7 linked regions of the Homo sapiens genome follow. The protein of the gene in region 2 interacts with the protein of the main gene of each other region in a pairwise test. Each region holds a gene or a part of one and is shown on either strand. Other genes may lie near its edges.

Region 1 (3,500 bases), on a different chromosome or scaffold from region 2:
CGGAGTGGCACTGATACATGCTCCAGTGACCCAAAGGCTGTGGGATGGCAGCGGAGACTTCTCTTTCTTGGGAGCGGCAAGATGCTTGCCTATGGCATAGTTGTCATCTCCTCCCATCAGGGAAGAACCAGTCTCCATTTCCTGGTGTGGCAACATGTCACCACAGGATAGATAAATGTTCATTAATGGGTAACAGTCAAGCTAGCTCCCCAAATTGATTCCTGCCATTCTTAAATATTACATTACAAAGGGGATGGAGGATGAAGAAATGCTACTGTGGTTTAAACCTCTCCCTTCTCAAACATATAAAGTGCAAGAAGTAAGGATACAGCGGGGTTTTGTTTTGTTGTGTTTTTTGAGACAGAGTCTCACTCTGTCACCCAGGCTGGAGTGCAGTGGCACGATCTCGGCTCACTGCAACCTCCGCCTCCCAGGTTCAAGCGATTCTCCTGCCTCAGCCTCCCAAGTAGCTGGGACTACAGGCGCACACCCCCACACTTGGCTAATTTTTGTAATTTTAGTAGAGACGGGGTTTCACCATATTGGTCAGGCTGGTCTTAAAACTCCTGACCTCAGGTGATCCACACGCCTTGGCCTCCCAAAGTGCTGGGATTACAGGTGTGAGCCACCGCGCCCGGTGGGATACAGCAGTTTTAAAAAGTGAGGCAGCTCTGCCTGGCCGCCCCACCGACTGGGAAGTGAGGAGCGCCTCTGCCCGGCCACCCAACTGACTGGGGAGAGAGGAGCACCTCTGCCCACCTGCCCCACCGTCTGGCAAGTGAGGTGTGCCTCTGTTGGGCCACTGTGCAACCCTCCAAGTGTGAAGTGACAGCCTTGTGTGTGATCTTTCTGCCCTCCCCAAGTTTGCATTTTCCACATTAAATTTTACTTTTTCATTAAAAAAAAAAAAAAAGTGAGGCAGGCCTTGGCCCTGTCAGAACAGTGTCCTCACTAAAGGGTTTCTCCTTACTGAGCTGCCCCACAAAAGGTCAGGTGCCCCACAGCAGCCTACCTGAGGGCAGGCAACCCCTTGAGAAGCTCATTGTATTTATTATTATTATTTTTTGAGACAGAGTCTTGCTCTGTCCCCAGACTGGAGTGTAGTGGCACAATCTTGCCTCACGGCAACCTCCGCCTCCTAGGTTCAAGCGATTCTCCTGCCTCAGCCTCCTGAGTAGCTGGGATTACAGTCACCCGCCACCACGCCCAGCTAATTTTTGTATTTTTAGTAGAGATGGAGTTTCACCATGTTGGCCAGGCTGGTCTCGAACTCCTGACCTCTTAATCCACCCATCTCAGCCTCCCAAAGTGCTGGGATTACAGGCGTGAGCCACCGCGCCTGGCCATATTTATTTTTTTTTAAAGATGGCATCTCACTCTGTTACCAGCCTGGAGTGCAGTGGCATGATCACAGCTGACTGTAACCTTGAGCTCCTGGGCTCAAGCAATCCTCCTGACTCAGCCCTTTTTTTTTTTTTTTTTTGAGACAGAGTTTCACTCTGGTTGCCCAGGCTGGAGTGCAATAGCACAATCTTGCCTCACCACAACCTCTGCCTCCCAGGTTCAAGCGATTCTCCTGCCTCAGCCTCCTGAGTAGCTGGGATTACAGACACGCACTACCACATCCGTCTAATTTTGTATTTTTAGTAGAGACGGGGTTTCTCCATGTTGGTCAGGCTGGTCTTGAACTCCTGGCCTCAGGTGATCTGCCTGCCTTGGCCTCCCAAAGTGCTGGGATTACTGGTATGAGCCACTGCGCCCGGCCAACTCAGCCTTTTAAGTAGCTGGGACTACAAGTGTGTGTCACCATGCCTGGCTAAATGTTTTTTTCTTTTTGTGGTAGAAATGGTGTCTCACCATATTGCCCAGGCTTGTCTCAAACTCTTGGCCTAAAGCAACCCTCCTGCCTCAGTCTCCCAAAGGTGAACCACCACACCAGGCCAAAATACACTTTTAAGAGGTAAACGTTCTGTGAGATAGAGTTGTCACCGAAGTTACTAACTCATTCTATGTATTATCCACCCACGACCCAGTAAATTGATGCAAGAAATAGTTTTGTCAAGAGAAATGATTTTAGGCTGTAATCTCAGCACTTTGGGAAGCTGAGGCGGGTAGATTAACTGAGGTCAGGAGTTCGAGACCAGCCTGGCCAACATGGTGAAACCCCGTCTCTACTACAAATACAAAAATTAGCTGCTGCCGGGTGCAGTGGCTCACGCCTGTAATCCCAGCACTTTGGGAGGCCAAGGTGGGCAGATCACCTGAGGTCAGGAGTTCGAGACCAGCCTCAACATGGAGAAACCCCGTCTCTACTAAAAATACAAAAAAAATTAGCCGGGCGTGGTGGTGCATGCCTGTAATCCCAGCTACTTGGGAGGCTGAGGCAGGAAAATTGCTAGAACCTGGGAGGCGGAGGTTGCAGTAAGCTGAGATTGCGTCATTGCACTCCAGCCTGGGCAACAAGAGCGAAACTCAGTCTCAAAAAAATAAATAAATAAATAAATTGCCCGGATGTGGTGGTGCATGCCTGTAGTCCCAGCTACTCAGCAGGCTGAGGCAGGAGAATCATCTGAACCTGGGAGTCGGAGGCTGCAGTGAGCCGAGATTGCACCACTGCATTCTCACCTGGAGGACAGAGTGAGACTCTATTTGGAAAAAAAAAAAAAAGAGAGAAATGATTTTGGAATCCTCAAATAGAGAGATCAGGAACTTCCATCAATCAGAGACCTTACAGAGGCAAGGGCAGAAGGAACCTGCCAAATTAAGCAAACAAGGGATAAAAAATCCTAGAGCCCAAGATGGAGGCCAGAAGACGAAGAGTTAACAAAACTCAAGTGGTGTCAAGAGGCAGCTGGTGAAGTTCCTGCCTATGCTTTAGAAAAGCATTTTTCAAACAGAGTACTGATCAACAGTGGGTCAGGAAATCAATTTTGTAGGTCATGACCAGCATTTTAAGAGACCAAATGGGACAAAAAAATACCAGCACACAGTGCACATAACAGTAAATACTGTTTTGCTGAATGTGTTACATGGCTGTACGCCTGTGTTGGGTTAAATGTAAGAAGTGTATCATTGTGGGATTTGAAAGGCCCCTATTGAAAAAAAAAAGCCTGAACATTCAAAATCTGTCCAACTTTTTTTTTTTGGAGATGCAGTTTCGCTGTCATTCAGGCTGGAGGGCAGTGGCGCAATCTTGGCTCACTGCAACCTCGACCAGCCAGGTTCAAGCAATTGTCCTGCCTCAGCCTCCCACGTAGCTGGGACCACAGGCGCGCACCACAATGTCCGCTTATTTATTTATTTTTTTTTTTTGAGACGGAGTCTCGCTGTTACCCAGTCTGGAGTGCAGTGGCGCAATCTCGGCTCACTTCAAGGTCCGCCTCCCGGGTTCAAGCGATTCTCCTGCCTCAGCCTCCCAAGTAGCCGGGACTACAGGCGCGTGCCACCACATCCAGCTAATTTTTGTATTTTTAATAGAGACAGGGTTTCACCATATTGGC
Region 2 (3,500 bases):
AAGAAAAAGTCTAGTTCACTGACAAACCACCACTTTACATCTCACGTTTTAAACAGGGTTAATCAGATGTCAAAAGGAAACAGCTTTTAATATTCAAAGGATGCTGGTTATTTATTTCAATTTGAAAAAAACTGTAACCAATACATGGAGCTCCAAATACCCACTTAAATTTTTTAATGCCAGATTTCAGTGAAATATTATTTTAGCAGGTCCAATTGTCATGTACTTTGCTTGAATAAAATGGGTTGATGAGCATCTTAAGGTCAAGATGGAGCAAAGACAGAAAAAGTCAGGCAGGCTTACCATGAAATATATTTTTTCAGCAGGTAGTGACCCATGTATTATCAGCAATAGTCTACGGAAAGTGGTTTCCATTGAAGGGATAAAATGGTTGGTGATATGACCTCATCAAGTTAGAGAAAAATGTAACTATGTTTGAAATATATACTATTCCCTCAACAAATAGTTCAACAGTTCCTACTCCTGAAAATGGTGTATGTTAATGCTAAGGAAGATGTAAAAAATGTAAGCACAATCTCTTCCATAATCCTGTGACATGAGCAAATGCACAAATAAAAAAAATTAATACAAAAATTGTATAACTGCTATGGAAGGGCAACTCACTCAGACATGTAGCCAAAAATGGAGACGTATGTTGACTTAGTTGGCAAAAGGTTTAAATTGGTCTTAGTCAAAAAAAAATTTTTTTAAAGCATTGTGAGGGAAGAGCATGAGAAAAGCATAAGAGTAACAGTGAATTCCTTCAGGGAAAGCTGTCAACCTGGATAGGCAGGAGCAAAGACAGAGGGCGGCAAGCCTAAGAGGGGGTCATGTAAAGGGGAGAGTCTCTGAATATCTAAGAACTGAGACGGGGCATCACTGACAGGCTGGGAAGAGGGAAGGGCTAGGAAGCATTTTAGGAAGGGGAGGGTTTTAGGAAGATAATATTGCCGATCAATGAAGGATGGCTCAGAAGAGAAGAGAGAACTCAGAAAAGAGTTTAATAGTACAAGCAAGGAAGAATGAGGTCTTGAACTAGGGCAGCTGCGGTGGGAATTTTAAAAAAAGAAATTTAAGGGCCATTACAGAGGTAAAACTTGCCTCATGATAACTGCATGGGAAGGATAAGGGACTTAGAAGAGTCCAAGATGATAGCAAAGTTCCTACCCTAAGTGGTAACATGTAGCATTAACATTGACAGGAAAACTTCTAGTCTCATGTTCATACCAATTAATAAATGGTTTCTGGTGAACATTATAGCAACATTTTCTCTACTTGTGACTTCTATTTAAATAACTGTTTTGTGTATAGATCATTCTCAAGTTGCTTGAAAATTTTATTTTCAAACTCTTTTCTCAGTTTATTTAACACATCTCAGTTAGTGTAGAGGAGTGACATATGAACATGTCTTTTCACAAGGTTATTAAAAAGAATACCTTACCTCCCAGAAGGGAATTCCATTGTTACCTAAATAATGTACATCTACATGAAGAAGAGGTCATTGATGACAATTTGCTAATGTGCTATACGACAGCAGATAATTCACAATTCACAACGTGTTAATAATTTGCTGGCTTTCCCATTCTGTTATACATCTGAACCATCTCTTATGACTACAAATTGTCATGTAAAACCATTACTAGTCGCTGATAATTTTGAAAGTGAATATGCCATAAAACACTCCTGTATTACAGCAGGAAATAAAAGAGACACTCAGTAGTTACACTTGCCTACTTCCTATTTAACTAAAACTCTTGAAACAACACAAGTAAAAAAGACATCCAGAAAGGATTTATGGTCTTCCTGCCTTCCACCATAGATGTGTCATTGATGTCCTGAAAACTGAAAATAAAATCTTCATTAAAACCCATTTATGCCTAGTGTTCCATTATTGGAACGCTAAGCTTGTGGGAATCATGTATCTCCTACCGCTCAAGAACATAGCCAAGGTCTGTTTCTTCACACACAAAAAATGTGCAGCCTCCGGCATAAATGTGTCAATGCGTTAACAATATACACAAGATGTATATTTCCAGGTAAAATTTCCAATTTACCTTTTCCTGTTCTAAATAACTCCCACAAAACTATTCACGAATCCTAAAAATACATTTACCAGTTATGTTAAATTTGGAACAATACATTCAAAGTGAAAATGGTAAGTAATTTAAAATGCATAACCAAAATGTCTTTCCATACATTCGGAAACAAACAGACTTTCTTCTGTTATGCACGTGTTGTATTTTATAATGTATTATGTTACCAAATAGAACAGACCTTTAGTAATTGCTCAAGTAGCGGCTTCATCTCTCTCAGCCTCCAGCTCCTAACACCTGTAGGTTGTTGCCACCTCTTCTGTTTTTCTTGAAATGCTTTCTAGAAGCACAAAAAAATAGTGATGAAAATTGGGTAATTTTTAATACTTACAAAACATAATTCTGCATTAGCTTTATAGGAATACTCTTTAAATCTATACTTCTTAACACTTTCTTTTAAACAATGTTTATGACCAATTTTAAACAACTGTGTTCACCACCCATATGCTAAAATGATATAATAACCTTTTTCATCAGTGATTAAGGAATTTTCTTTCTTCTACATACATAATCAACACATATGTCTTAATTCTTGATTTTGAATGTAGAGTATTTGACGACCCTTCCTATAATTTGTTGACCACAGATGGGTAAGATATATACAGAAATTAACTAAGAAACATTCTTTCTTACTAAGATTTTAAACAGGTAATAAATCTTGGTCATTTCAGTATGCACACGGATGAACCTTCCAATAATGATTGCCTTTCTGCACCTTGACCTAATCTCCAACAACAGTGTTCTCCTCTCCTCTACGTGGCACTCACTTATACAGTCATCCCCTAGATTTTATCATTCCCAATGACTGCAACATCTACATAATATTAATAATAGCAATGATAAAGAGCAATCATGGGTCAGATCACATCCTGAAAAATTTAAATAAACCCATTACACAGGAACCTTTCAATCCTCCAAATAACTCTGACATAAGTTCTCTTACCGTGTCTCCTTTTGCAGATAAGGAAATTTCGGCACAGAGATAAATAATTTGCCCATGGTTCCCGAGCTAGCAATCGTCAAGCTGGAGTTGAATTACAAGCAGTGGGGCTGCAGTGTCCCAGCCCTTGACCACTGCACTCAGCTGTTTCTCCATCTTCCCAACATACAGCCACTACCTTCCTGCCACTGTAGGTCACTCACTTCAGTACTACAGCTCAGGAGTCTGTTGAGACCCGACACCCACTGAATGGAACACTTTTCACTGCCCATTGCCCACCCCCATGTGCTCAGGTAACTCAGTCCCAGCTGAAATTCCACAGCCAGTCATCATATCCCCATCCCTGCATCTATGCCCTGCCCAACTCTCCTTCTATCAACGTGCGCAGCTACACCCCAACCCAGGAAATTCCAACCCTACAGCTGCTTTTGCACAAATATGCCAACCGGGCTCACTTTAACTTCTTT
Region 3 (3,500 bases), on a different chromosome or scaffold from region 2:
TGTTTATTTCATGAAGGATTATTATGAAGGGGTTTAAAGCCCATGTCTTTGACTACTAAAATAATGTATTTTGACCATTATCTTAGTGGTCAAAGATTTGGATTTTAAAATTTGACTGTCTCCATTTAAATATAGGTTGGACAAGTTAACCTCTCCAAGCTTCAGTTTCTTCATCTGGGTTATTATGACTGTTACATGGATTAAATGCATAATACAGGTAAAGTGCTAAGCCCAGTGTCCGATATGTTGCAAGCACTCAATAAATGTTGGCTGTTCTTATTATAATCTAGGTCCTCTTTCCAATCCTGGGCTTTCAGGTCCCTCTTATTATGCCTTATCTCAGATTCCTCACTCTATACATATACTTATTTCTACTCCAAAGTCATCCTAACCCTTCTTTATTGAGGCACCTAACGCTGAGGGTGTAAGAAAACTGCCTGAGCTGGCAAGAGAAGACTTTGGTAATAAATTCTGAGAAATCTTCCCTTACCATGTCTGACTATCACTGACACATGATGTTTTTTGTACACTGGAATCAGGAAGAATACTATTTATGCAGAAAAAAGTGAGTAAAATTAATTACACTGAAGAACGAAAAGTACTAACTTGTGTTCCATTAGGGCACAACTATTGGTATAATTCATACATTAGTACATTGTAAAATAATAATAATAATAATAATAATGTTCCCAAATTGAATGAAATCAATTTGCAAATTTTTCTTTAAATTCAGGGTTTTCTTTCTTTCTCTCTCTCTTTCTTTTTATTAAGACAGGATCCCACTCTGTTCCAGGCTGCAGTATAGTGGTGTGATTATGACTCATTGCAGCCTCAACCTCCTGGGCTCAAGTGATCCTCCTCCTCAGCATCCCAAAGTGCTGAAATTACAAGTATGAGCCACCATGCCCAAACCCAGAGTATTTTTTTTTAATTAAAAGTAGAAATTTCCAAAAGGATTTACTAAATAATTTACAATTTATAAATGACCATCTATGATAATTATAAGCTACATAGATGAAGTTATCAAGTAACTTTTTAAAAATCAAAGATTAGGCATGAATCAGAAGTCCCGGAAAAGAAAAATGACCAAAAACCTACAAAATGGAGTCTCAGAAAAAAAGTCAGTGCTATGTGAAAAAATGATGCCTTTCTATGCAGAAGTGAATAACAATTTTTACTACAGCTCACCTGTAGTTTCTGAGTCAAAGAATCCCTCTGTTCTTGTAGTTCTCTGGCATTATCAATTTCTTGTTTTAACCTTTCTATTTCCTAGAAAAGACAGAGCAATGTCTTAACATTCAAACTATATCAAGGCAAGGGAAGGTCTTGTTTTTCCCTGAAATTATTGTTCTAGTTCTTAGAAAAAGATGATTTTAAAAACATTCCTTCATATTGACTTTTAGAGGGATGAATTCATCTTTATATGTATGTTGTCTAGAACAATAATCTTAAGCAACAGCAACAAGTCTAACTTGGTGCTTCTGGTACAGCAATGCTTAGAAATAACAACCTGAACATTTTAATGTTGCTTCAAGCTTTGTGGATATAATTCTTTCCTAAGATATTAAAGTTTTGACTGGAACCCAGAGAAACCAACAGCTTTTAAAATCCATTTAACCCCTAATGATTTTCTGTTGACTGTATAAATGCAACTCTCATCTGGAAGGCAACAGGTGGTATCTCGGTCTGACTGCCTCACCACAGTTCATAATAACAGAAATAAGGATAGAGAAAATATGAGCAAGCTTAATACCACTCAAGAAAAATTTCATCCTAAAAAAGAGGTCACAACCTGACTTTATTCCATAAAATACTTTTAAATTTGACATGGAATCTAATACTTTGTACAAACATGTTAGCTAGATTACAGATGAGTAAAAAGCAGCAAATACCTCTTCCTTCAGTTTCAGTGTCTCTTCCAGTTCTTGTATTGTCTGATTTAATTCTGTCTTATGAGTATGTACTGCATTTGCTTGGCTACTAACACATTCAAGTTCAGTCACCTAAAATTAAATGAGAACACAGATTAACTTAAATTTCAACTTTAAAGAGTTTCTTGCTAAATACATAGCCCCAAATAAGTGAATAGTATATTCTGAATAAATATATAAAAATTAATTTTGAGAAATATTAAGACACTCAAGGTAGAGTGAATAGATTCTTCAAAGATATAAAACTAGGAAAAGGGAAAAATAATCATTTACATGGCTTAGTCATAGAAAGGTTAGGATAACTTAAATTAAGTGATTAATGACAGTAGAGAATCCCTATAATGAAAGTCTTCTGTAAAAATTTCTTCCAAAAACATATTCAAGATCAGATATGACCATCTGTCCTTCATCTGTAGCCTTCAAATTCAATATGGGTTCTGAAAACTGGCCTTGCAGAAGTGAGAATTTTTTCAAATACATTTCCAACATGTAAGAGAATCTGGAAGAGAAAATAGGCTTAAAATACAACTTAAATCATTAGATACTGGAATGACTTTACATCAACAGTGTCTCTTACGGGTAAGATAAAATTTTGTTAGTCAATAAGAATTTACTGGGGGCCCAAAGAGTAATATAACTTTTAATGAGCACTTGGTATTTTTTGAGAGAACAGAGAGGGGCACTGTCCTTCAAGTTATACCATCTAAAACTAGAATCAGCAATAGACAGAAGTCAATATAAATACACACACACACACACACACACATGCACACACACACCCTATCACAGTTCTTTACATATATCATGTGCTCATAAAATTTTGGTTTACTAGAAGATAGTAAATTCTAGACTATTAAAGAAACAGAGTAAATCCCTCTCCCTGGCATTTTCCAAATATCAAATTACCCTCTACATTCTGTGATTCTCTCTCTTATATAATTTTCTTCCTTTCTTCTCATGTACTAATAGCCTCGTTACAAACCCTTATCATCCAGACCTGAACAAAACCAACAGCCTCCCAGTGGACTTAATTATAATCTTTTTTTTGTCTATTCTGCAAATTGCTAAGATTCATCTTTCATTCCTGTGATTCCACCATTCAAAGACTTTCAGCAGCTCATCTTTTTTACGGTATCAGATCTAAACGCTCAGATCCTCTGTATATTGGCCCCAACCTTCTCAACCATCCACACTGCCCAAGATACTCAGTGAGTACTTCCAACTAAAAGCAGGCAAATCTCCTTGTCCTAAGAACAAGTGATATTCATTCCCAACTTGTTGATTTAACTAGAATGTCCTCTCTTGCCTCTGAAAACCACTCGGACCTAACCGAACCCTTAACTCTTAGCTCAGCATGTGCTTTCTCCAGAAAGCCATTCCTATCTGCTCAAGTCTTCAAGGCTCTCCTCTGGTTCACAAAACCAAGCATCTGTTCAAAAATCTTGGGAATTATTTCACTTATTGTTTAATGTGTATTTGTTTTGTCTCATTATATAATAAATTCCTTAAAGGGAGTTCCAATTCTGATAATGATGAAATAGTTTTTATTGGAGTAACTTTCCTATAGGT
Region 4 (3,500 bases), on a different chromosome or scaffold from region 2:
GCTGGGACCACAGGTGCACACCATCACGCCGGCTAATTTTTGTATTTTAGTAGAAACGGGGTTTCACCATATTGGCCAGGCTGGTCTCAAACTCCTGACCTCGTGATCCGCCCACCTCAGCCTCCCAAAGTGCTGGGATTACAGGCGTGAGCCACCGCGCCTGCCATGTGCCTGCATTTTTCTAGGGGGAGAATCTCACTTGATGTCACCTGATATACAGAGGGGCCCATTGGAACCCGCATTGCACAACATCCTGGAGTCTGGCTACTCCACGCTTTGGGAGCAGGGAGGGCTGTTGGCAGAGACCATCTGTGGACTAGCTGGGGGACCCTTGTGAGGTAGCAGTGGATGATGGCTCTCGGGCTGACTTCTTTGCCCAGGAAGAAGGTGTGCAGCGGGCCCGGGAGGAGGAGGAGAAGCGCAAGGAGGTGACCTCGCACTTCCAGGTGACACTGAATGACATTCAGCTGCAGATGGAACAGCACAATGAGCGCAACTCCAAGCTGCGCCAAGAGAACATGGAGCTGGCTGAGAGGCTCAAGAAGCTGATTGAGCAGTATGAGCTGCGCGAGGAGGTAAGGGTATCACGGACAGCAGTCATGGCCCAGAAATTGTGAGGTTTTGAGTGTGTGCTAGGCACTGGGACAGTACCTTTTCAGGCTTCATCCCATTCTCCCTTTCTTCCTCCTCCTCCTCCTTGGGAGGAGAGTAATGTTATTCCTCATAGATAAAAAACAGGTGTGGAGAAGAGACTCACTTACAGCCACACAGCCCCAGGTCCACAGTGCCTTGTCCCAAATGACTGGGCCAGGCATCTTTTGGAATTAGAACTATCCACATTTTAGAATGGAGGTACATGTATGGACTGTGTGTTATATAGCACCCTCAGCAGGGCCTTGGGGAAGCCAGACACATTAATGTATTTATGCAGTAGAACTTCCAAATACTCACCTACATTATGGGCTTACAATGATGCAGGTCAAGTCTGGCTGCCAGCTTATGACAATTTCCATTTTCAGAACTTTGTAGAATTTGGAATTGCAGGGGAGGGGTGTACCTGTGATCAGTGATGGACTCCAGAGACTGTGTCCACTGATTCCTTGCTGCTCCTGCCACTCAAAAGGCAGAATTTATCAGGCTGGGCGTGGTGGCTCATGCCTGTAATCCCAACACTTTGGGAGGCCAAAGCGGGCGGATCACCTGAGGTCAGGAGTTCAAGACCAGCCTGGCCAACATGGTGAAACCCTGTCTCTACTAAAAATACAAAAAATTAGCCAGGTGTGGTGGTGCACGGCTGTAGTCCCAGCTACTCAGGAGGCTGAGGCAGGAGAATTGCTTGAACCCAGGAGGCAGAGGTTGCAATGAGCCAAGATTGTGCTACTGCACTCTAGCCTGGGTGATATACCGAGACTCCATCTCAAAAAAAAAAAAAAAAAAAAGCAGGATGTCACTCCCTTTGTCACTGCGTTGGCTGCCACCCCAGGCACTTGAATCTTTGGATCTTCCCTGCCAGTCACCTGGCTGTTCTGGGCGCGTTCTCATCATGAGAAGGGAGACCTGCAGCCCCCTTACAGGGCTGGCAGAGGACCTGCTCTGGATTAGGCCCTTTCCTAGCCCCTGGGGTGTGGCAGTGGGTGAGACCGGGAAGATCTGCCCTCTTAGGTTCATAGGCCAAAGTGATGATCGTGTGTGCAGGACCTAGAGGGCGCTCCCCTGACCCACCCCTTTCCTTGCCATACTTCATCCTCTGGGAACAAAGCTGCTTGTTTGGTTTGAGGGGAGTTGGTTTGGTTCTTATCCCTCAGCGCTGAGACATAGAGGCTTCCTGGGCCACTACAGTGAGACACGAACTTCAAGAATCTGAATACCCCCGTTTTCTCTCCCCGCCAAGGCAAAAAAGGACTTAGTACTACCTGTGGAGAAGGAGGTGCAGGACTACCAGGCCCTGCTGCTTTGCATTTACAGCCCTCCCCAGACAGACACAGGCACCCTCATCATACCCAAACTGGACTTACCTGCTAGGCACCTTCCCTTCCCCATCCAAAAAAATGGAGTTATTTTCCCTTATTTCAGCAAGTCCAGTTGATTTTACCTTTGAAGTAGCACCTGAGTCCTTCACCTTCTCTCCATCCCTTCTCTCTCACCTGACACAGGTCTGCAGCGCTCCTCTAGTAGGCAGGACAGCCATTCCTTGGGGATGCACATGTCTAGTCTTTGCCTAGATATGGCAAGTCTTTGCCAACTGAGCTAGGCTGTTATGTTCTTAGAGGCATTGTTTTTGCCCATTCTTCCCATTTACAAGAGAATCAGGGACACAGAAGTGAGGGCTTCCAGCCCCATAGGTGATCAATCCTGGGGTCAGAGATTTGAGTGTGTTTATTGCTTGCCTTCTTGGGAGCAGATTCCATCCATAAACCATGTGCTTACCAAGGTCTGACTCACTGGGAGAGAAACGACGTGAGGTTGGAAAGCTGACCTTCCAGAGACTTGGGGCCCATGTTGTGTGGTACACATGGGAGTCCATCATATCAGATTGAGATGGGGGGCTGGGCAAAGTGCCCTGGTCTGTGGCTGTGGGGCTACCCTGAGAAAGGGAGCGCCTGACAAGCCGACTGCTCCCACCATCTTTGTTGCAGCATATCGACAAAGTCTTCAAACACAAGGACCTACAACAGCAGCTGGTGGATGCCAAGCTCCAGCAGGCCCAGGAGATGCTAAAGGAGGCAGAAGAGCGGCACCAGCGGGAGAAGGATTTTGTGAGGCTCAGGCCCCAGGGTTGGGGTGGGGGTGGGAGGAGACAGGCTGGGCTCTGGCTCAGCTCATAGCCGGGTTATATGGGAGAAGTCTGGCCAGACCAGGCACAGATTCCTTGAGTACCAGTCTGAGAGCAGGAAGCCTCAGTGGGTCTGGTGCTTGTGGCTAAAAACCAAACATAGCCCCTGGGGGCTTCTGACAGGATCTGGGGTTCTGTCTTGGAAATAGCTCCTGAAAGAGGCAGTAGAGTCCCAGAGGATGTGTGAGCTGATGAAGCAGCAAGAGACCCACCTGAAGCAACAGGTGAGAGCATATAACCTGACCCTGTGCCTTCAAGTTTCCCTCACTGGGCCCCATCCTGGGGGTAGTGAAATGGGACCCTCATTCTAGGACTGGCTGTGTCCTGGCTGCTATGACGCCTTGGTTGAGCCTTTGTTCTCTCCGGACCTGCACAGTACCTATGTGGTGGTGACCAGGTAGTTAGGTGGGCTCAGAGGACTTCATTTGTAGCTCAGAAATGTATTGCTTTTGAGGAGGTAGGAACAGAAGAGTTTGAAAATCAACATAAAGGCAAAATAAAAGTCACCCTAAGTCTCCTACTTTCCAGGCTTAGCATTTTGGATTATATCCTTCCAAATATATAGCTTTGCTTTGTTTTAAGGAAAAATAGTATCTCAATAGAATTACTGGTCAGAGAGTCAAGGACGGGTCTGAGTGTGTTGACCAGAGTGCCTCCCAGAGAAACC
Region 5 (3,500 bases), on a different chromosome or scaffold from region 2:
TTTCGTAAGACCTCATATCTACCGATGTGATTATTTTGAGTATGTTAATATACTTCAAAGCAAAATGACAGTATGTAAAACACAAAGCTCAATCACTCATTCATCACGTATTTATTGACTATCTGCCATGTGCCAAGCACTGTTACATATTGTGGGGTAATATCAGCAAACAAAACAGGCAAAGATGCTTGCCTTTATGGAGCTCACATTATAAGGTGACACTGAAAATAAAATAATGTTTAGGGCAAACATGGTCTCTGCTCTCACAACACTTAGCCTAGGTAGAAATACAAAGCAAGCCGTTGGTAGACAGGCCATGTGGTAGGCAGAAAAGCAGAAGGTGCCTGGTATTGTGAAGGCATCTAACTGTGACTGAGGTACATCTAGCAGAGTTTCCCAGGTGAAGTTATCTTGGTAGGAATAATCTAGATGAAGAAAGGGACAGGGATGAATATTCTAAGCAAGGAAGAATATGTTTATAAAAAAGCCAGAAGAAAGAGAGTAGGGAAAGTTCGGGGAACTGATAGTAGTCCATTCAGGCTGGAGCATAGTGTTCAAGAATGGAATGGTAGATGAATCTAGAGGAGTTAAGCAGGGTCATACCATGAATGGCTTTTAAAGTAAGTTGTTGTAAGGAGTTTGGAATTTATATATTGAGGAACCATTAAAGCAGGGGAGCGATATGTAGCATTTGAAGGATGAATATCAAAAAATCGTTTCAAGGAATAAGGTAAATAAAGTCACTTTGGTGTTTGTTTCTGCACATTAACACTTCAAAACTTGGCCTAGAATAAAATTGAGCACGTCCATGAAACCAATTTTGAACCTCAAAAATGAATGGTAGCCTAATCATTAGTTATTTTAATAGAATATACAGGAGCATTTACATAACTATATATTTGAGGTTTTATTAGTGGTGTTAATATCTCAAGGCAGAACAGCACTTTATCTTCACATCATTATAACTATTTTAAGCCCAAGAAGCCTTAGTACTTTTTTCCACTTTATCCTGAAACTCTGGAAGTGCGGCATAGGGGTTGCTTATACTCGCATTCTACTTAAAGCCACACTATGCTTAGGACTTGGCCATTTAAACAAAATCCAGTTGTTGCGTTATTACTGCTCTTTGAGATAAGCTCCAGCAATACAAAGTAAAACCAGTGCTACTATTCTAGAAAAGAAAGTCTAGCTTGTCTCTCCACCCTCAATTATATTATTGCTAATGACCAATGACATTGGAGGAAGTTTTATCTCTTTAATTTGTTGCAGGTTATGCTTTTTAAGATAATACATAGAAATATTCAAATATAGAACTTGACAAATCATCCAGCTTCACACTAACACATTCAAAAACTATTTATGAAGAAGAGAACCAGATTGTATTGTTAATAGTTGCAATAACAGTACCAACAGGTAGTAGAAGTAACTGAATAACAGCCATCACTTTGGTTGAGCTTAAGTTGTGCATAGGTGCTCTTCCAGACACCTCATGTGTATTATTAACTTTATAATCCTCACCACCAAATGAGGTAGGTACTATTATTATCCATATTTTAAAGATGAGAAAGCAGAAGTACTAGTCACAAGATTAGCAATTTTTTTAATAATTGGAAGGCTTTTGCATTTCAAGCTCCAGTGGCTTAATTGACATTTTTATAGAATGAGTAATTGCTATGATTTTTTAACGTATCAATAAAAGTTCTTAGAAGGTAAAAATGGCCTTTCAGTTCATTTTTTAAATCTTTAACTCTGCAAAATTGACATAGGTACACTTCAGTGGCTAATCAAAGGCTAAAATCATACTAGTAGATTTGGAAGTAAAATATGGTTAGAGAACTAAAAAAGCCATGTGTATATACATATTCATATAAATAGAGCTTTTTCTTATCTTCAGAAATGTATGTATTTAATCCCTACTGAAGAACCGAGTTCACTGAGGAAAGGATACTAGGACAGGTGGTCTTAATTTTAGAGAGGAAAAGCTATATTTAAAACTATTTCACCCTTTATCCATCAGAGAAACATTTGCTTTTCATTTTTAAAATGTACTGTTCCAGATGTGGGGGATATAGTATATAAATAAAATAATCAAAATTCCTGCCTTCCTGGAATCTACATTCTATATGGGGGCAGAAGGGAGCAGAAAAGCAATATGTATATAAATTATATAGTATATTAGAAGGTGAAAATGGTGTACCGGAAAATATAGCAGGAAACTACTTTGATGGGAGTAGAGAAAGACGTGAGAAAGCACACATGCAGGCATCTGAGAGAAGATGCTCCAGGTAGAGGGTGCAGCAAGTACAAAAACCCTGAGGGCATGACATAGCTGGTATGGTCAAGGAACAGCAAGGAGGGCTTGGCTAGAGACGAGTAGAGGAAACGGGGAGCCAAAACATATAGGGCTTCGACTTTGGTCTTTACTCAGAGATGAGGCGCCTTTGGAAATTTTGAGCTGAAGAGTGACATAATTTTAGGCTTTAACAGAATCATTCTGGCTGCCACGTTGAGGATAGGTGTTGGGTGGAAGCTGACTGATCTGTTTCAAACTTATTGCAATAATGTAGTCAGTAATTCAGTCAGAAGATGGCAGTGGCTTGGATCAGGGTAATTGTGGTAGGTAGGATGGAAGTGGTCAGGTCCTGTGGGCCTGTGGGTGTTGTTTGTTTTTTGTTTGTTTGTTTTGTTTTGTTTTGTTTTGTTTTTTTGAGACAGAGTCTTGCTCTGTTGCCCAGGCTGGAGTGCAGTGGCGCAATCTCGGCTCACTGCAAGCTCCTCCATCTGGGTTTATGCCATTCTCCTGCCTCAGCCACCCGAGTAGCGGGGACTACAGGCACCCACCACCACACCCAGCTAATTTTTTGTATTTTTAGTAGAGACAGGGTTTCACCGTGTTAGCCAGGATGGTCTCGATCTCCTGACCTTGTGATCTGCCCGCCTCGGCCTCCCAAAGTGCTGGGATTACAGGCGTGACTGTGGGTGTATTTTAGACTTAAAGCCAGAAGGATTTGCTTGACAGACTGTATGTATATTGGACACAAAGAGGTCAAGAATTATTGCAAGGTTTTGTTTTGTTTTGTTTTAGAGACAGAGTTTCACTCTTCCAGTCCAAGGTGGAGTACAATGGCGCAACTTCGGCTCACTGCAACCTCTGCCTCCCGGGTTCAAGAGATTCTCCTGCCTCAGCCTCCCAAGTAGCTAGGATTACAGGTGTGCGCCACCATGCCCAGCTAATTTTTTGCATTTTTAGTAGAAAAGGGGTTTCACCATGTTAGCCAGGCTGGTCTTGAACTCCTGGCCTCAGGCTATCTGCCCGCCTCAGCCTCTCAAAGTGCTGGGATTATAGGCGTGAGCCACCACGTCCATCTGCAAGTTTTTGACCTAAGTAACTGAAAGAATGGGGAGTTGTAGATAGTTAAAATGGGGAATGCCAGAGGAGGCAAAGATTTCAGGGATGGAGGTCTGGGAAGTATGTCAGTTATATTAGAAGCCCAGTTTTA
Region 6 (3,500 bases), on a different chromosome or scaffold from region 2:
CTGGGCAACCAGAGCGAAACTCTGTACCAAAAAAAAAAAAAGGCCAGGCGCAGTGGCTCACGCCTATAATCCCAGCACTTTGGGAGGCCGAGGCAGGCAGATCACGAGGTGAGGAGTTTGAGACCAGCCTGACCAACACGGTGAAACCCTGTCTCTACTAAAAATACAAAAATTAGCTGGGCGTGTGCCTGTAGTCCCAGCTACTCGGGAGGCTGAGGGAGAACAATCGCTTGAACCTGGGAGGCGGAGGTTGCAGTAAGCTGAGATCGTGCCACTGTACTATAGCCTGGCAACAGAGTGAGACTCTGTCTAAAAAAAAAAAGAGGCCGGGAGCGTAATCCCAGCACTTTGGGAGGCCGAGGCGGGTGGATCACGAGGTCAGGAGATCGAGACCATCCTGGCTAACATGGTGAAACCCAGTCTCTACTAAAAATACCAAAATTAGCCGTGCGTGGTGCCATGCGCCTGTAATCCCAGCTATTGGGGAGGCTGAGGCAGGAGAATCGCTTGAACCCGGGAGGCGGAGCTTGCACTGAGCCGAGATCGCGCCACTGGACTCTAGCCTGGGCAACAAAGCGAGACTCCGTCTCAAAAAAAAAAAAAAAAAGACAAGCCCTCTGGAGCCTCAGAACCAGCACCTCCCCTTCCTGCACATACCACAGCGGTAATAAGACAAGTCTGTGCAACTCACTGTTGCCCAGCTCTCCCCTCTGCCAGGATGTAAACTGCCTGAGGGCAGAAACAGCCCTGCTTCAGCCCCAGCTATGTCCCCAAGGCCTGGAACACTGGCCAGGACAGCAAAGAACAGGTCTGTGCCGAACAGGGACTCTGGCTACCACATACCTTTATGACCTTGGGCAAGTCCCATACCTAACCCCTTGAACCCTCAGTTTCCCAGCTGTAAAAGTGCCCCACAGAGTTGGGTCGTGAGAATTAAAGGGGATAATATGGTCAAAACATCCAGCATGGTTCATGACACCTAAGTGCTCAATATACAAGTCCTATTCACAGCCAGCACACAATAAATATTTGTCAATAGTCAACATACAGTGAGGGGCCCCAGGGTAGGTAGGAGATACCCGCACCCTGGCCGGCTGGCTCACTGTTCTTCAGAGTGGGAAGGGTGCACAAAGTTTAAGATTGGTGGATTTTGGCCAAGTTAAAACTTGCTGGATTGGCGGGGTGCAGTGGCTCACACCTATAATCCCAGCACTTTGGAAGCCCGAGGAGGGCAGATCGCCTGAGGTCAGGAGTTTGAGGCCAGCCTGGCCAACATGGTGAAACCCCATCCCTACTAAAAACACAAAAATTAGCCGGGCATGGTGGCAGGCGCCTGTAATCCCAGCTACTTGGGAGGCTGAGGCAGGTGAATGGCTTGAACCCGGGAGGCAGAGGTTGCAGTGAACCACGACTGCAGGCCGTTGCACTCCAGCCTGGACAACAAGAGCAAAACTCCATCTCAAAAAAAAAAAAAAAAAAAAAAAAAACCTGGCCAGGAGCAGTGGCTCACGCCTGTAATCCCAGCACTTTGGGAGTCCAAGGCAGGTGGATCTCGAGGTCAGGAAATCAAGACCATCTTGGCTAACACGCTGAAACCCCGTCTCTACTAAAAGTACAAAAAATTAGCCAGGCGTGGTGGCGGGCACCTGTAGTCCCAGCTACTCAGGAGGCTGAGGCAGGAGAATGGTGTGAACCCGGGAGGCGGAGCTTGCAGTGAGCCGAGATCGTGCCACTGCACTCCAGCCTGGGCGACCACACGAGACTGTCTCAAAAAAAAAAAAAAAAACGTGCTGGAATGTCACAATCAGTCATTCAGCGTCTGTCCAAAGTTCGGTGTTATTAGTAATAAGCAGAGGAAGCAGTCTAACATTGAAGAGCTCAGCTCTGGACCTATACTGACCCAAGTTCAAATCTTGGTTCTGCCATTTCCTAGTTGTGAGACTTCAACAAAGTTTCAAATGCCTCTCTTAGTTTCAGTTATAACAGTACTGACACCTTATAGGGTTGCTGTGGGGACTAACTGAGATCATAAAAGAATACAGTGCCTAGCACAAGGTAAGCACTCAAGATTTTTTTTTTTTTTTTTTTTTTGATACGAACTCTCACTCTGTCACCCAGGCTGGGAGTGCAGTGGCACGATCTTGGCTAACTCCAACCTCTGCCTCCTGGGTTCCAGCAATTCTCCTGCCTCAGCCTCCTGAGTAGCTGGGACTACAGGCACCCACCACGACACCTGGCTAATTTTTGTATTTCTAGTACAGACAGGGTTTCACCATGTTGGCCAGGCTGGTCTCGAACTCCTGACCTTGTGATCCTCCCATCTTAGCCTCCGAAAGTGCTGAGATTACAGGTGTGAGCCACCACACTTGGCCTTTTTTTTTTTTTTTTTAATTATACGTGTTATAGCCCCCAAAGTAACCAATGGTTACATAAAAGCAGAAATAACGGAAATAATAGGCCCTTCCCAGGCAATGCTTAATGTCAGCATCTTGCTCATTCCCCCAAATTCTGATAAGCTTTCCTGAGTGAGAAAAAAATTAGTGACTTTTAAGAGCAGACATGCCTGTAAGTCCTTTTTTTTTTTTTTTTGAGATGAGAGTGTCTCATTCTGTTGCCCAGACTAGAGTGCTGTGGCATGATCTCAGCTCACTGCAACCTCTGCCTCCCGGGTTCAAGCAATTCTCCTGCCTCAGCCTCCCAAGTAGTGGGATTACAGGCACTCACCACCACGCCCGGCTAATTTTTGTATTTTTAGTAGAGACGGGGTTTTACCATGTTGGCCAGGCTGGTCTCGAACTCCTGACCTCGTGATCCGTCTGCCTCAGCCTCCCAAAGTGCTGGGATTACAGGCCATGAGCCACCAAGCCCAGCGTTTTTGGGTTTTTTTGTTTTTGTTTTTGTTTTTGTTTTTTGAGGTGGAGTTTCACTTTTGTTGCGCAGGCTAGAGTGCAATGGCGCGATCTGGGCTCATTGCAACCTCTGCCTCCCAGGTTCAAGCAATTCTCCTGTCTCAGCCTCTTGAGTGGGATGACAGGCGCATGCCACCATGCTTGGCTAATTTTTGTATTTTCAGTAGAGACGGGGTTTCATCACATTGGTCAGGCTGGTCTCAAACTCCTGACCTCAGGTGATCCGCCCGTCTCGGCCTCCCAAAGTGCTGGGATTACAGGCATGAGCCACCGCGCCCAGCCTTTTTTTTTTTTTTTTTGAGACGGAGTCTCACTCTGTCGCCCAGGCTGGAGTGCAGTGGCGTGATCTTGGCTCACTGCAACCTCCGCCTCCTGGGTTCACGCCATTCTCCTGCCTCAGCCTCCCAAGTAGCTGGGATTACAGGCGCCCGCCACCATGCCCAGCTAATTTTTTGTATTTTTAGTAGAGACAGTGTTTCACCGTGTTAGCCAGGATGTTCTCAATCTCCTGACCTCATGATCCGCCCGCCTCGGCCTCCCAAAGTGCTGGGATTACATGAGCCACAGTGCCCGGCCTTTTTTTTTTTTTTT
Region 7 (3,500 bases), on a different chromosome or scaffold from region 2:
ACATTTGTTGATTTTTTTTAGCTTAAAATTTAGTAACTCTGGGTTTGAAGGCCACGGTTATTTTTGTTCTATGCATGTTTGTGTTTTTATTTTGCCAAATAGGAAAGTTAGATTGTCTTTTCTGTCTTTGGACATAAGTGCATGGGAACACCATGGTATCACTTTAATTGGTGGATGCTATTAAAGGGACTAAATTCTGTCTAAAAATACCATGCTGGTGTTTATGATAAATTTAATGAAAAGAGCTTGTCATGAAACAGGCACAGTATCTAAATTTTAGGAAAACGTAGGTGCATACATATGAACGAAAAACACAGAGCATATATGAAAATATAGTGGTCATTGGGTATTGGGAATGCAGGTAATTTTTTTCTAACGTATCTTTTAGTGAGCAAATATTTTGTAAAAAGGAAGAAAAATTGATCTCTTTAGTGTGATCTCTTTGAGACATGGGCTTGTTGGTGAATAGTACTCACTGCACAGTGGTTTGGTAAGGTTTCAGTGCACAATGACAATTTATGATACTTTTAAGTATCTTTTTAAAATCTGCATAATTCAAACTGCTTCCTAAGTTTAGTGATGTTTATTATGAGGAAGAGGAAACAGATAAATCCTTGTAATGCCATCCATCTAACGCTTTTCTCCTTGTTTCGGGCCACCTGCTCAATGTGTGATGTATTAAAATTGCCTTCTAACTTACTGTCCTGCTTCTGCCTTCCTTGCGTGTTCTCCTTGCATACAGGGATGGCACATGGGAACTCTGCCTCTAATCTCAATCCCTTTGTAATGTGGACACATGGTAGTCCAACTGATAATCCGCTTTTACCTTGGTGATTCAGTTGTTTAAAGAAAAGTTTTTCTGTTGTGCATGGTGGCCCACCCCTGTAATCCCAGCACTTGGGGAGGCCGAGGTGAGTGGATCACTTGAGCCTAGGGGTTCACGACTAGCCTGGGCAACATGGCAAAACCCCATCTCTACAAGAAATACAAAAATTAGCCAGGCAGGCAGTGGTGGTGCATATCTGTAGCTGCTCAGGAGGCTAAGGTGGAAGTATTGCTTGAGCCCCAGAGGCAAAAGCTGCAGTGAGCCAAAATTGCACCACTGTACTCAAACCTGGGCAACAGAGTGAGACCCTGTCTGAAAAAAAGGAAAAGAAAAAAGAAAAATTTTGTCAGAGGCTTCAGAAATGAATCATTCTCTTGAGCATTTGCTTACTTTAGACAGGGTCTCCCTCACCTAGGCTGGAGTGCAGTGGTGTAATCATGGCTCCCTGCAGCCTCAACCTCCTGGGCTCAGGTGATCCTCCCACCTCAGCCTCCCTACAGGCACATGCCACCACGCCCAGCTAATTTGTTTTTGTATTTTTTTGTAGAGACAGGGTTTCACCATGTTGCCCAGGCTGGTCTTGAACTCCTGGGCTCATGTGATTTTCCTGCTTAAGCCTCCCAAAGTGCTAAGATTACAGGTGTGAACCACCATGCCCAGCCTTTTTTTAAATCTATCACTAAGATTATATGATCACTATACTCTGGTTGTTTATGAGCATTTAAATTAATTTTTATATAAAAAATTAAAAAGTTAGCATAGTCTAGGTGGAATTCCTTCCGTTTTCTCTGTTCTTTGCTGTCCTCCTGATCAAATACTTAGCGGAGCACTTGGAAGCTTTTAAAGTCTTCTATGGAGATTAATTTTTGTTTGTTTGTTTGTTTTGTTTTGTTTTTTTTTTGAGATGGAGTTTCACTCTTGTTACCCTCTTGTTGCGATCTCAGTTCACCACAGCCTCCACCTCCCAGGTTCAAGCAGTTCTCCTGCCTTAGCCTCCTGAGTAGCTGGGATTACAGGCATGTGCCACCACGCCCAGCTATTTTGTATTTTTAGTAGAGACAGGGTTTCTCCATGTTGGTCAGGCTGATCTCAAATTCCCAACCAGGTGACAGCCCGCCTGGACCTCGCAAAGTGCTGGGATTACAGGCATGTGCCACCATGACCAACTAATTTTGTATTTTTAGTAGAGACGGGGTTTCTCCATCTTGGTCAGGCTGGTCTCAAACTCCTGACCTCAGGTGATCCGCCTGCCTCGGCCTCCCAAAGTGCTGGGATTACAGGCCTGAGCCACCACACCCGGCTGGAGATTAATGTTTTAAACTGATGCGTCTCCCTTATCATCCCCACAAAAAAGGAGAAACTCAGAATATTTGCTATCTTTCTAATTTTCATAGCAGTAAATAGTGAATATTGAGCACTTAGTACTACTTTTTAAGCACTTTACATGCACTGTACATGGGTATTATAATAGCTTAGTCTTTATAATCTTTAAAATATGAGGTTAAAGAGAATTTTAGAGCTGAGGTAATAAAGACATAGAAATGAAGTAATATTCCAAGGCTAAGCAGCAAAGGGCAGAGTTCACACCCCTGACTATTATATTAATTGACTGCTAGTACCGTAACTTCTAATTGCTACAGTAACTGGTTTCTGCCGTTTGTTTCTTTCTGTTTGCTGTGTATACACAAAGATGAAATGGTCTGGTTCCTTCCTACTTTCAGCTTCATCACACTTCACTGAAAAAGGTCATGTTTTACAATTGGAGTGTAGAACAAACTCTGATGTGCGTTTCAGTTCTAGCTATGTGATCTTAGGCTAGTTAATCTTATTTGTAAAGTGGCAATAAAATTGGTACCTACCTTTATAAGGCTGTGAAGATTAAGTGAGAACATTTACAAAAGGGCACAGTGAGTAGTATGTGTTAAGTATTCAGTGTTAACTTTTGTCTACTCTGAAGGTATTGCCAGACATTGAGCTTTCTCACCAAAACAGTAATAATAAGGTTTACTTGTGTCTGCTTTTATTGGACATGATATATTTAGATGCTGCCTCTTTGCTTAAAGAGAAAAGTTTGCCTACCAGGCTTTCTTCTCACGGATTCTAGGCTTGAGGTTTATTCTGTATAAATTATTTGGCCAGGTATGTTTTTCATCAGATTGTTACTTTGAAACAGAAGCTTAGGCTTATTTTCTGCGAAGCATTTCCCACGCAAACTTAGTGACATTTTAATATGAAATTATTTGCATTAATACCATTCTAAAAAATGTTTTCTCTTTTTTTCCCATGCCTATTGCAAATTTTGTGCAAAATCTGGTTCTTAATCATTATTACATTGGTTTACCTTTGCATCACATATGAATAGCTGTACTTTGCTACTTTTGACTAATACTTTTTCTTCCAAGAGTTAGAATATCATAGCATAATGTTTCAAGAGGATTATTGTTAGATTGGCACAATAGTTAAAGGAATGCTTTAGGACAAATGTCTGAAATGTGATATTTAAGCTTGGTCCTAGATGTCCATGTTGAGATTTCCTGGGAATAAAATGGCTTAGTTGGGCATTGGACAGTGTAGTTAAGTAAACCCTATCTTGACAAAATGATTCAGATATGTGCTTATATTCTTAGGTGACCGGGTTATTGATGTGGGATCTGAATGGCGAACTTTCAGCAAT

What was found.
Region 1: the proteins of FAM9A (region 2) and STIP1 interact in binary tests that used the Homo sapiens proteins (3 or more experiments, as listed by UniProt).
Region 3: the proteins of FAM9A (region 2) and HOMER1 interact in binary tests that used the Homo sapiens proteins (3 or more experiments, as listed by UniProt).
Region 4: the proteins of FAM9A (region 2) and TXLNA interact in binary tests that used the Homo sapiens proteins (3 or more experiments, as listed by UniProt).
Region 5: the proteins of FAM9A (region 2) and SH3GLB1 interact in binary tests that used the Homo sapiens proteins (3 or more experiments, as listed by UniProt).
Region 6: the proteins of FAM9A (region 2) and ESRRA interact in binary tests that used the Homo sapiens proteins (3 or more experiments, as listed by UniProt).
Region 7: the proteins of FAM9A (region 2) and GTF2B interact in binary tests that used the Homo sapiens proteins (3 or more experiments, as listed by UniProt).

The regions. Positions count from the first base shown.
Region 1 is NC_000011.10:64,189,171-64,192,670, reverse strand, and holds part of STIP1 (stress-induced-phosphoprotein 1), read right to left. Parts: intron 1-3,500. UniProt on the Homo sapiens protein: Acts as a co-chaperone for HSP90AA1. Mediates the association of the molecular chaperones HSPA8/HSC70 and HSP90.
Region 2 is NC_000023.11:8,791,384-8,794,883, forward strand, and holds part of FAM9A (protein FAM9A), read right to left. Parts: intron 2,374-3,500; coding exon 2,275-2,373; intron 1-2,274.
Region 3 is NC_000005.10:79,395,635-79,399,134, forward strand, and holds part of HOMER1 (homer protein homolog 1), read right to left. Parts: intron 2,004-3,500; coding exon 1,893-2,003; intron 1,270-1,892; coding exon 1,189-1,269; intron 1-1,188. UniProt on the Homo sapiens protein: Postsynaptic density scaffolding protein. Binds and cross-links cytoplasmic regions of GRM1, GRM5, ITPR1, DNM3, RYR1, RYR2, SHANK1 and SHANK3.
Region 4 is NC_000001.11:32,189,675-32,193,174, forward strand, and holds part of TXLNA (alpha-taxilin), read left to right. Parts: intron 1-380; coding exon 381-575; intron 576-2,636; coding exon 2,637-2,756; intron 2,757-2,982; coding exon 2,983-3,057; intron 3,058-3,500. UniProt on the Homo sapiens protein: May be involved in intracellular vesicle traffic and potentially in calcium-dependent exocytosis in neuroendocrine cells.
Region 5 is NC_000001.11:86,735,576-86,739,075, forward strand, and holds part of SH3GLB1 (endophilin-B1), read left to right. Parts: intron 1-3,500. UniProt on the Homo sapiens protein: May be required for normal outer mitochondrial membrane dynamics. Required for coatomer-mediated retrograde transport in certain cells. May recruit other proteins to membranes with high curvature. May promote membrane fusion.
Region 6 is NC_000011.10:64,308,524-64,312,023, reverse strand, and holds part of ESRRA (steroid hormone receptor ERR1), read right to left. Parts: intron 1-3,500. UniProt on the Homo sapiens protein: Binds to an ERR-alpha response element (ERRE) containing a single consensus half-site, 5'-TNAAGGTCA-3'. Can bind to the medium-chain acyl coenzyme A dehydrogenase (MCAD) response element NRRE-1 and may act as an important regulator of MCAD promoter.
Region 7 is NC_000001.11:88,864,068-88,867,567, reverse strand, and holds part of GTF2B (transcription initiation factor IIB), read left to right. Parts: intron 1-3,453; coding exon 3,454-3,500. UniProt on the Homo sapiens protein: General transcription factor that plays a role in transcription initiation by RNA polymerase II (Pol II). Involved in the pre-initiation complex (PIC) formation and Pol II recruitment at promoter DNA.